3 linked regions of the Homo sapiens genome follow. The protein of the gene in region 3 purifies or fractionates together with the protein of the main gene of each other region. This does not show direct contact. Each region holds a gene or a part of one and is shown on either strand. Other genes may lie near its edges. The genes, in order: KLC1, LARP1 and TRIM16.

Region 1 (3,569 bases), on a different chromosome or scaffold from region 3:
AGACACAGCTCTTCCAGGGCAGCGGCTCCACTTTCTCATCCGAAGATGGTGGCCACAGACTGACCCCCATCTGAGCTGGGGGGATGTTCTGCCTCTCCCTGGGTCTGGGGACAGGCCCGCTTGCTGGGTACCTGGTCCCCACTGCTGAGCTGGCCCTTGGGGAGAGGTGATTCTCAGGGCTGGAGCCTGGGGTGTCCTACAGTGACTCCCTGGGAGCCGCCTGCTTCTTCTCTCCACATGGAAGCCCAACTGGGGTTGCGTCTGAGGCCTGCCCCCTGGGCTGGGGCCTCAGACCCCCTCAGCCTTGGGACCGTGCCCACGAGGGTCTCCCCTCCTGCACACAGGGCAGTCCTTACTCCCCCACCACTCAGGCCACAGTGGGGCTGCAGGCAGGCGGCTCCTCCTCACCCACCTCTGGGTCCTTGGCTCCCGGGGGCCCCACCTCGGCACACACTGTGCCCCACAAAACTTCAGTGTGGTACAAGGTGGAGAAAGCATATCCCACCAACCTCCAGTGTCAGGGTCCAGGAGAGCCTGGGGGTGGGGGGACTGCCTTGTCTCTAGTAGTGTGGCCTGTGCCAGCACCACAGCCGGTCAGAGGAGCGCAGGCAGCGCAGGGCTGGCACGTGACAGGCTCGTCAGCCACCTGGGAACACAGTTCTGGGCAAAGAGGATCCGAGGTTGAGAGGAAGGAGGGTCCCGGTGTATCCTGGCCCTGGGGGTCTGGGCGTCCAGCTCAGCCCTGGCCTGGCTGGGTGGTATTCTGGTAGGGATATGGCAGGACTCCTGGCAGGGCCACCTGCAGGACCCTGTCCTGCAGTCCCACACTGTGCAGACCCAGTCCCACACTGTGGCCAGGCCTTACATCTGGCTGGAAAGCAGAGCCTCCTGGGAACACATCTGGCTGCACAGGCTGAAATATCCACCCAGCAGGCAGAGTGGCGTGGCCTCCCCATGGGCACAGTGGTGACCCCCTTGATTCCCACCGTACAACCCCCTCCACCCCCCACTCAGTGCCTCCACATGCTGCCTGGCACAGACCAGGCCTTTGACAAATAAATGTTCAATGGATGCAGTTCCAGGACCTGCTTCTTGCTGTCTGCCAGGCACTGCTCTGAGTAATTTATACACATTGAAGTATGTTCTCCTCACAACTCCTAGGGATAGGTACTGTTACATCTCCACTTGCAGGTAGGGAAATTCAGGCCCAGAACCGTTAAGTAGCTTGACTCCTCCCACAACCCAGAGGCAGAAATTGTCACCCCCCACCTTATGTGCCCAGGGTGAGCCTGTGGGTGCTCCTACAGTGGGAGGAAGGGGGGCTGGCACTGGTTGGGGGAAAGGTAAGGGCTGGGGCCATACTGTGCAGAATTTTTCTGTTTGCCGTTTTCCAGGGTGGGACAATCCGTTTAAACCTTCATCATGTTATCAAGGCTCTCTATGACCCTAAAGTTAAGAATCACTGGCATGAACATGGGAAAAAGTTATTTTGGGGTTGGATTTTTACAAAACAGCCTTTCTGCAAAAGTGCAGGAATTCTACAATGGCAAGTAAGACATTTTATTTCTGTAATTGAACATAAGCAATTCCAAATGCTTTTCTAGGCAAGACATGCCAGCGATTAGAAAATGAGACAGCTTAAAGACAGAGGTACATTTAACAGAGAAAACACGCCTGGAAGCTCGGCCGGCCCCGCCCATGCTGGCTCAGTTCCTGCCCCTGGAGGGAAGGGGCCGAGGGGCTTCCCGTCCCAGGGAACTCCCACCACAGGAGTCTGCAGACGGGCTGGCCTGGCAGTCAGTCCCAGAACACTGACCATCCCCTTAGGGAGGCACCACGCCCTGGGGAGCACAGTTCCAGGCCAGGGCCATGGGTCTTGCCCTGAAGACCCTCCCTCAGGGACCACGCGCCCTGACCCTCATTGCCTCACCATATTATAAAACACTAAAACCGCTTAAGTTCTTCCCCACAGAGTTGGGGAACTAATTGTAAACAGAATACACGTCTACATATCAGCCCTGAGACAGCTGGCCCCGCTGCACACGCAGCCTGCTGGCCCCAGCAAGACACGGTCAGAGCTGGTAAGTGCTCTACAGCATTCAGAAATCTGACCACAGCGTACACACAGCTCACAAGTCAGTGCAAACAGAAGCTAATGACATCCTCCAAGAAAATTCCATACAGTTATGACAATGGAAAACCTGTTATACATTGTAACGATACATCATTAGCAATGTTTAATACATCTTACTATAAACACTGAATTTCTAAGTACATGATACTCCTAGCAGCTTAATCCAGAAAACAACGATGTGAATCCCTCCAATACTGTAAACACAAGACCAAGTGCTGCCCATGAGAGTGCCCCGTGCCACCCGCGGGCACCACCGGCCTCTGAGGACCCCTGAGCCACACACTGCTGCTGCTTCAGGGAAGCATCCATGTCACAGGACTTCCCCAGGGGCCTGATTTCTGCCACAGCTGCACCAACTACCCAGAGATATGCTGTCCGCCCACAGATCCAGACGCTCCCATGCCATGGTTGCTGGGGACGGGCGCTGCACACACGGCTGCTGTGGGGGGGGGCGGGGGGCGGGGGCGCAGTGATTATTTTGACAGCAACTCTGAAGAAACAGGTGCTGACTCTCGCGTGGGGTTCCTCTCACCAGAACGACCACACACAGGAGGAGGGATGCCTGGGCCCACCACTTCTCTCCTCTGAAGGGAAAAATTCAGACCGCCAGATGGGAAATGGCTGAAATCACCGCACTTCTATTGGGTGGAAGGGTTCAAACATCGGGGACTCAGGTACTCAGATTCCCTTGCCGCCTCCCTCTGAAACACGAACCTTCCTTTATGAGCTGGCTTCAGGGAGGCCCCCTGGCTTCTCTTACCCCAACACACAGTGCTCCCACAGCCACAGTGCTGCAGAGGCCACCTCGGCCCTAAAGTCCCATGGCTGGAAGCCACAGCAGGCTCCACAGAGGCCCCACACAACCTCGTCTGCACCCATCAGTCTGAAGAGGTTAAAATTCAACTCCATATTCAGCCCTATGTTTATTCCTTCTAAATGCCCTTTTTCCTTTCCAGATAACTGTCACTAAGGGAAACTGTCTGGGTTCCAAACTCTGCTCAGCATCCTCACAGGGAGAAGGCACCCCCACCACAAGGGAAGCTCCGGAGCCCTCCTCCCTGTCGCCTGTGCACAGACATAGCCCACTACGGGGGCAGCCACGGCACCTGTCAGGGGAAGCTGCTCTACACCCCCCTTTTTTTGGGGGGGGTTGGCTTCTCACAACCCATCAAATTATATATGTATATATATGTATGTATATATATATATATATATATACACACACACACATATATATATATATACACATGGTTTTTTTTGCTAGACACAGGGACTCGCTGTGTTGCCCAAGCTGTTCTTGAACTGGGCTCAAGTGATCCTCCCGCCTCAGCCTCCCAAAGTGCTAAGATTATAGGATTACTGGCATGAACCACCGCACCCAGCCATATATATATATATAATTTAACATTTTTTCTTTTAATCCCATCCACTATTA
Region 2 (3,652 bases), on a different chromosome or scaffold from region 3:
TAAAATTCCAAAATTTCCACTTTGGAAAACAGAGTTTAATTTTGTCAAAGGGTTAAACATGGTTACCCCATGACCCAGCAATACTACTCTTCTAACCAAAATAAAGGAGAAACTACGTCTACAGGAAACCTGTATGTGAATATGCCCAGTAGCATCATTCACAATAGACAAAAAGTAGAAACAACCCAAATGCCAATCAACTGATGAATGGATACACAAAATGTGATACATCCATACGATGGAATATGATTTGGCAATAAAAAGAATAAAGTACTGATGCATGCTATGACATGAACCTTGCTGTGTATTTGTTAGTATACCAAATATACTAAGGGGAAGAGGCCAGTAACAAAGGACCACATACAGTATAATTTATGTGAAATGTCCAGAATAGGCAAAATCCTTAGAGGCAGAAAGTAGGTTAGTAGTTTCATAGGGCTGGGAGGATTCTGGGGGTGGGGAGTAGTTTGCATGTATAATGAGTATGACTGGTAAGGGGCATAGCATTTTGGGGGTAATGAAAATGTTCTAAAATTGATTCTGGTGATGGGCACACAACTATATGAGTACACTTAGAGCTATTACATTGTATTCTTTAGGTATGTTCCATCATATGTAGATTATATCCCAATAAAGCTGTTATTACACATAGAGTAAGAAAGAGAGAAGTGAAGTGGATGAATCAAGAATTTAGCAACCACGTTTTGTTGAATGAAAGAGGATGAATGAGTTAATAACTACAGGTGACTAGATTGGTTTTGCGCGTCTTTACAGCCAACCTATCAGAATACTAAAAGAGCAGGGACAGACAAGAGCATCTAGACAGGCTCGTTCCTTACACTATCATCTAGAGAGGGGATCAGCAAACTACTTTTGTAAAGGGACAGAGAACAAATATTTCAGGCTTTACAGAAGACATATAGTCTCTGTCACAAATCTTTTTTTCTTACAACCCCTTAAAAATGTAAAAACTGTCCTTAGCTCCAAAGCCATACGAAAACAGAATACTGGCTGGATTTGACTCACAGGCCAGTTTGGCAACCTTTGTTCTAGAGAGCATATGTCACCTCTTACATACCCTTTTGTGATGGACAGTGGACTAGACCTGACAATGGCTGAGTCAGTAATCTTGCCAGAGATATGGAAATACTTAATTGACAGCTTTAATAATCAATAGAGGAAGATCAAAGAACACGAACGTTGTGAGTGCCATATCCCCCTAGCTTCCTACAGTTTAAAACTACCTGGCCCGAGTCTAACTTCAGTCTTTCTTGCTATAATGTCATGTCTTTTTTTTGCTCTGAAGTCAGAGAAAAGAGTCACCTATCCCCGTATCCCCCAACTCTTATACTCTGGGTCTAAATAACGGGCCCAGAGGCTCATCTCCTGCCCCCCACACTTCTTACCATTAAGGCAGCGCCTACGATACTTATGGTAGACGTGTTGTGTGAAGCCATTTTCCTTGAGCAGTTCATGGGAAGGATGCTGGAACTTGGGCAATGACTGAGGGGTACAGCCATAGCTGCCAACTGTAGGCGTCCCTTCTGAGGGGCTGGAGCTACAGAAACCACAAAAAATACTGTCACCAGGTTCCCCACAGCAGCCCCACCATGTCAGGAGGGGTCCCTCTGATCCGTTCTGTCAGCCAAGATCCATCCTCTCACAGGGTATCAAACAAGGAGGCCCAGTTACGGACCTTTAACTTATATCCATGGGTCTGATTAACTCTGCATCAACTCTCAGAGAGTTTTACAGAGGATACTGAGGCTTACAGAGATTAGGAGACTCATCCAGGGTCATAAGACTATTTAATGGCAGAAACGTGTCCAATGATAAAACTTGAGCTTTTAACCATTTATTAACTTTAAGCATTTAACCTTTTAATGAGCCATCATGGGTCAATCCATCTACAGTGAACCCTTGAACAACATGGGTTTGAAATGCATGGATCCACGCGTGGGTCCACTTATACGCAGATTTCTTCCACCTTTGCCACTCTTGAGACAGCAAGACCAACCCCTCCTTCTCAGCCTGCTCAATGTGAAGACCATGAGGATGAGGACCTTTATGATGATTCCCCTTTGCCACTCGAGAGAGCAAGACCAACCCCTCCTTCTCAGCCTGCTAAACATGAAGACCACGACGATGAAGACCTTTATGATGATTCTACTTCCACTTACTGAACAGTAAATATTTTCTCTTATGATTTTAACTTTTATTTTAGGTTCAGAGGTATGTGTACAGGTTTGTTAAGTAGGTAAACTGTACCTCACTCTCCTCCCTCTCCCCACCAAGTAGGCCCCAGTGTTTGTTGTTCCCTTCTTTGTGATTTTCTTAGTAATATTTTTTATTTAGCTTATTGTAAGAATACAGTATGTAATACATATAATATGCAAAACATGTGCTAATTGACTATATGTTATTGGTAAGGCTTCTGGTTAACAGTAGGCTTTTGGAGAGTCAAAAGTTATACACGGATTTTCAACTGTGTGCAGCTGGGCACCCCACGCCCTTCGTTGTTCAAAGATCAATTGTATATTTTCTTCAAAAGCATGCCTATTTGCAGTCTGTGCCATCTCTGCAGGGAGTAGAGAGCATTGGTCATAGGTAGGTGGCTCTCAAAGCTTGCTTTGGGAAACAGGAAACACACACTGGGGCCATCTTACTGAAATAAATAAAAAAGAGTGTGGGCCCTACCCCAAGAAGCAGGGTCAGCAGATACAGGTTGGGGCCAATAAATATGTATTTTTTTAATTTTTAAAACTTTTCAAGTAGCCTCCCAAGACATAGTAGGCTCAGAGAGACTGCCAGAAATCTGTTTATTCAACTACCTGGCTATTCTTCCTCAGACAGAAAGTAGATAGCCAGGCTTGGAAACCAATTCAGAGATTTTCTCTCTGCATGTATGAAAATCTGGTCTCACGTGACTGCCACACCACTTCTTTAGGAAAAAAGCCTACCCGTCATTCCCAGGTCCTGGGCTGAGCTTTCCACACCACTGGTTTTTTGAAAACCTCTTAGATGAGGGTCCCTTTAATTTTCAGACCAATCTTCTTGGTCCAGTCAATTTCATGGCTCGCCCACCCATCCCATAGGCAGCCTGATCACTCTTCCCCCACTGCCCCAGGTACCTGATGGAAGCAGTACGGGGCCTGTGCTCACGGGAATCCATCACCCAGCCCACATGGCTCTCCAAGGGTGGGTTTGAACTGTGTCTTGTCTTTCTTTTTCGAGGCATCTGCAAAGGTTAGCCCAGGGTTTGTTACTGTTTGTACTCCTACAACTCTGAGGAGCATCAAGCACTTGTAGGACTAAGATGGGCATGATCTCTCACATTTTACAACAGCATTTTCATATTCATTCTCGTATAAAGTTCACAGTGGTGAGCTAGGAACTGGTATGCCTATTTCAAACAGGTGAAGAAATCAAGGTTTGGGAATGCAGTGATTTGCCCAAGGACTCATACCTGGTCAATCCTCCTTAGGCCTTTCAACATGGGGTTACCACTCCCACACCCAGTATATTTTGCAGATGTGGCTACCTAATCCTAGGTAAGCCCACCAGCCTCAGAACACAGAGCAGGTGAAGGATTTAGCACTTCCTTAGCTCAGACAAGGCAAGGGAGAGAAGCAAAGCACTGGAATGCAATGAA
Region 3 (3,652 bases):
TGGTGACGGGCACCTGTAGTCCCAGCTACTTGGGAGGCTGAGGCAGGAGAATCACTTGAACCTGGGAGGCGGAGGTCACAGTGAGCTGAGATCATGCCATTGCACTCCAGCCTGGTGACAGAGCAAGACTCCGTCTCAAAAAAAAAAAAGACACAATAACATTAAAGAGCTATTTTGAGATAAGTGAAAAAAGATTTCTGAAAAGGTAGATGTAACAGAGTTTGGCCCCATTTTTGATGTCTGGCCATTGACAGCATTTAAGTTTCCACCATTTTCTATTCTCCCCTCCCCCACACTGCCCCACCGCACACCTGGTGCTTTAGATAAAGAAATCCATGGGCATCTCCTGAGCTCCCAGCACTGGCAGGAAGCTTGAATCCCTCAAGCCCACAGATCGAATGCTCTCCAGCCCCATTCCCTAGCTACTTTAAAGGCCCAGCCTCCTCTCTGTTCTTGCCATTTTGGACCAGCTTTCATCTATCCTGCTCTCCCCAGAAACCCTGTGTATGAATAGTAAACTTTCAAGTTCTCTTAGTGTGTGAAATGTCATCAGTCTTGACATCTGGCCTATTAACTGAGTCCCTCATCTCCCGGGGGGTGATCACAAAACAGTGGGATGAGGTAAAGCAAACAAAAGCTGCCCACAGGAGGGTATGAGCTGGGGGCAGGAATGACTACAGATTAAGGCAAAGTTTTATAGGAAGGTGGTATTAGGATATGTAATTAGCTATGAGCTTCTTTATTTTGTTTGGACATGGCACTATTTCCATCAGTACAAGAAGGGGCAACAAGCTCAGTTCTGCACAACTAGAATTTCTTGGCTTATTCCTGAGGCCAGGGAAGGGGGGTAAAATCACTGCATGGTGACAGCAGTCATTTCAGGTACAGACAAAAATACACACATATACATATAAAAATTGAGCTTTAGAGTCTATTAGGCTAGTCCAGATTTCAGTTCAGTGTTTCTTCACTTGGATTTGTGATATTCTGATAGCTTTGCAAGAGAAAATAACCAGGGTAGGAGAGGAGGGATTTTCATCCCTTAAAATATAATAAAGCATCGCCACTGTAACAACCTATAAAAGTATAATTCTTTGGTATTTAACCAAATGAAGAGTCTGAGTGGATTTGTCCAGACATTCAGGGAGATTCTCCACTGTGAAGTCTCTGGTGTCTAATGAGGGCTGAACTACACGAAAGCTCTGCCACATTTATGTGACAGAACTCATACCGGAGAAAAACCCTACAAGTGTAAAGAATGTGGTGAAGCCTTCAGTCAGAGCTCAACTCTTACAAAACATATAAAGGTCTACACTGGAGAGAAACCCTACACCTGTAAAGACTGTAGGAAAGCCTTCAGCCAGAGTTCATCTCTTACCCAGCATCAGAGGGTTCATACTGGAAAGAAACCATTTGATTGTCAGGAGTGTGGGAAAGCCTTCAGTAGAAGCGCCCATGTTACCCAACATCAGAGGATCCACACTGGAGAGAAGCCCTGTGTATATACACATACGTATGTGTATGTATACATACGTATGTGTATATACACATACGTATATATACATGTGTATATACATATATATTTGCATATATAATATAAAAATATATATATTATATACTATACATATATATATACTTTTTTTTGCAGATACTTGAATGTTTGTGTTCGTTAGAGTTCTAGGCTCTCTTGTAACTCTTTTTGTGCTCTTTGGGTGATATTATCCACTCCCATGGCTTCAATTTCATCCATTCTCAGGCAACTCCCAAATCTGTACCCCCAGTTAAGATCTCTTTCCTTTACTAAGATACATTTGGCATGTCGTCCTTATATTCATCTAGCCTCCAGACATTACCACTTAGAGCAGGTTTTCTCAACTGCAGCACTGTTGCCGTTTTAGACAGACAAGTCTTTGTGTGGGGCCCCGTCCTGTGCATTGTAGGATGTTTAGCAGCATTCCTGGACTCCACTCACGAGATGCCCATAGCACACTTCAGACGTTGCCAAATGTCCCCCGGGGGGCAAACTTGCCCCTGGTTAAGAACCACTGGTTTAGACTTATTATAGACACTTCAAACAACTTAAGAGAAACTGAACTCATCTTCCACTCCCTAAATTTGCTACTTCTCCTGTGTTTTCCATCTCAGGGAAGAGAACTTCCATTCACCTACACATCCAGACCAGAAACCTGAGAATTTTTTCTTTTTTTTTTTTTTTTTTCTTGAGATGGAGTCTCGCTCTGTCACCCAGGCTGGAGTGCAATGGCATGATCTCGGCTCGCTGCAAGCCCCACCTCCTGGGGTTCACGCCATTCTCCTGCCTCAACCTCCCAAGTAGCTGGGACTACAGGTGCCCGCCACCACGCCCGGCTAATTTTTTGTATTTTTAGTACAGATGGGGTTTCACCATGTTAGCCAGGATGGTCTCCATCTCCTGACCTCGTGATCCGCCCGCCTCGGCCTCCCAAAGTGCTGGGATTATAGGCGTGAGCCACTGCGCCTGGCCGAAACCTGAGAATTTTCTTTGTTACTCCCTCACCTCTCAAATCTACACAACAAATTATGTCAATTTTATATCCTTAAAATTATTCAAATTCTTTCCTTCTCTTCATATTTCTTATATAGCAGAAAACTAGGTAGGATAAGGACAGAGTAAATGAAGAAGTGATTCCAGCTACTAAAGAGGAAATGGGAATAGCCTCATAAAATGCCTCAGGATGAGGCACAAAGCTGATCTCTGGATCATGTGTTGGGCTTATAACTTTAAGGAGGAAGTATCTCTTCCTTGAGTCTGGGAAGAAATAAAGAGGTAAGCTATTAGGATTCTGATGTGGTCAAGTGAAGATGAGACTGCAGGGGGATTCAACATTTTCTACAGGCCCGGAGGATTTGGGAAGAACCCCTAACTCTTATTTCTAAAGATGCAATCTGCCTTGTTCTCACTTACGTGTACCGCTGCTTCTTGGCACCTCTCCCTCCTGCATTTGTGTTCGTGGGCTTACCACTTCTTCCAACTAGGAGATGATACCAGGTTTGGAAAATGGAAATCCTACTGAAGAGATACAAACAGAATGTAATTTTAAGTTCAAAAGAGAAAGGACCACTCTATTCTCAGTCCCACTCTGTTGCATTTTAGAGAGGAGAAAACGAAATAACTAATTGTCAAAAGCAATTAAATAATTTCTACCCAAGTAGGGTGAGAAACAGTTTAAGGATCTGATCTGGATTCTGTGGGGGAAAATAACCAAAGCCTCATTTGTTACCATTCCCTAATAGAAGCAAGGGAATCTTTAGAAGGCAAAGGTATCCTGAAAGGTCAATCTGGGGTGGAAGGACCCAAGCTCACCCAAGGAGACCAGGTTCCTATAGTTCTCCAGCATTACATCCCTGTACAAGACTCTCTGAGCAAGGTCCAGTTCTCTCCATTCTTCCTAGTGAAGTTCACAGCCACATCCTTGAATGACATAAAGCCCTGAAACACCTGCATGGGGTTCTGAAGAAAAAGTTACATGAGGCATACTTAGGGGAGACTGATGGGATGGAGAGGAAATAGATTAAACTATGTTCACAGTGTCAAAGACAAGATTTTATTGACTCGTATATTAAAGAATCTTAAAATCTTAAAATGTGTATACCCCTCTGACATAATTTGATA

What was found.
Region 1: the proteins of TRIM16 (region 3) and KLC1 fractionate together in Homo sapiens (co-fractionation; one large-scale study listed by BioGRID). This does not show direct contact.
Region 2: the proteins of TRIM16 (region 3) and LARP1 fractionate together in Homo sapiens (co-fractionation; one large-scale study listed by BioGRID). This does not show direct contact.

What each region holds. Positions count from the first base shown.
Region 1 is NC_000014.9:103,695,123-103,698,691, reverse strand, and holds part of KLC1 (kinesin light chain 1), read right to left. Parts: exon of another isoform or gene 1,537-3,569; intron 1,076-1,536; exon of another isoform or gene 1-1,075. UniProt on the Homo sapiens protein: Kinesin is a microtubule-associated force-producing protein that may play a role in organelle transport. The light chain may function in coupling of cargo to the heavy chain or in the modulation of its ATPase activity.
Region 2 is NC_000005.10:154,803,787-154,807,438, reverse strand, and holds part of LARP1 (la-related protein 1), read right to left. Parts: intron 3,239-3,652; coding exon 3,132-3,238; intron 1,559-3,131; coding exon 1,407-1,558; intron 1-1,406. UniProt on the Homo sapiens protein: RNA-binding protein that regulates the translation of specific target mRNA species downstream of the mTORC1 complex, in function of growth signals and nutrient availability.
Region 3 is NC_000017.11:15,674,232-15,677,883, forward strand, and holds part of TRIM16 (tripartite motif-containing protein 16), read right to left. Parts: intron 3,491-3,652; 5' UTR 3,344-3,490; intron 3,050-3,343; 5' UTR 2,945-3,049; intron 1-2,944.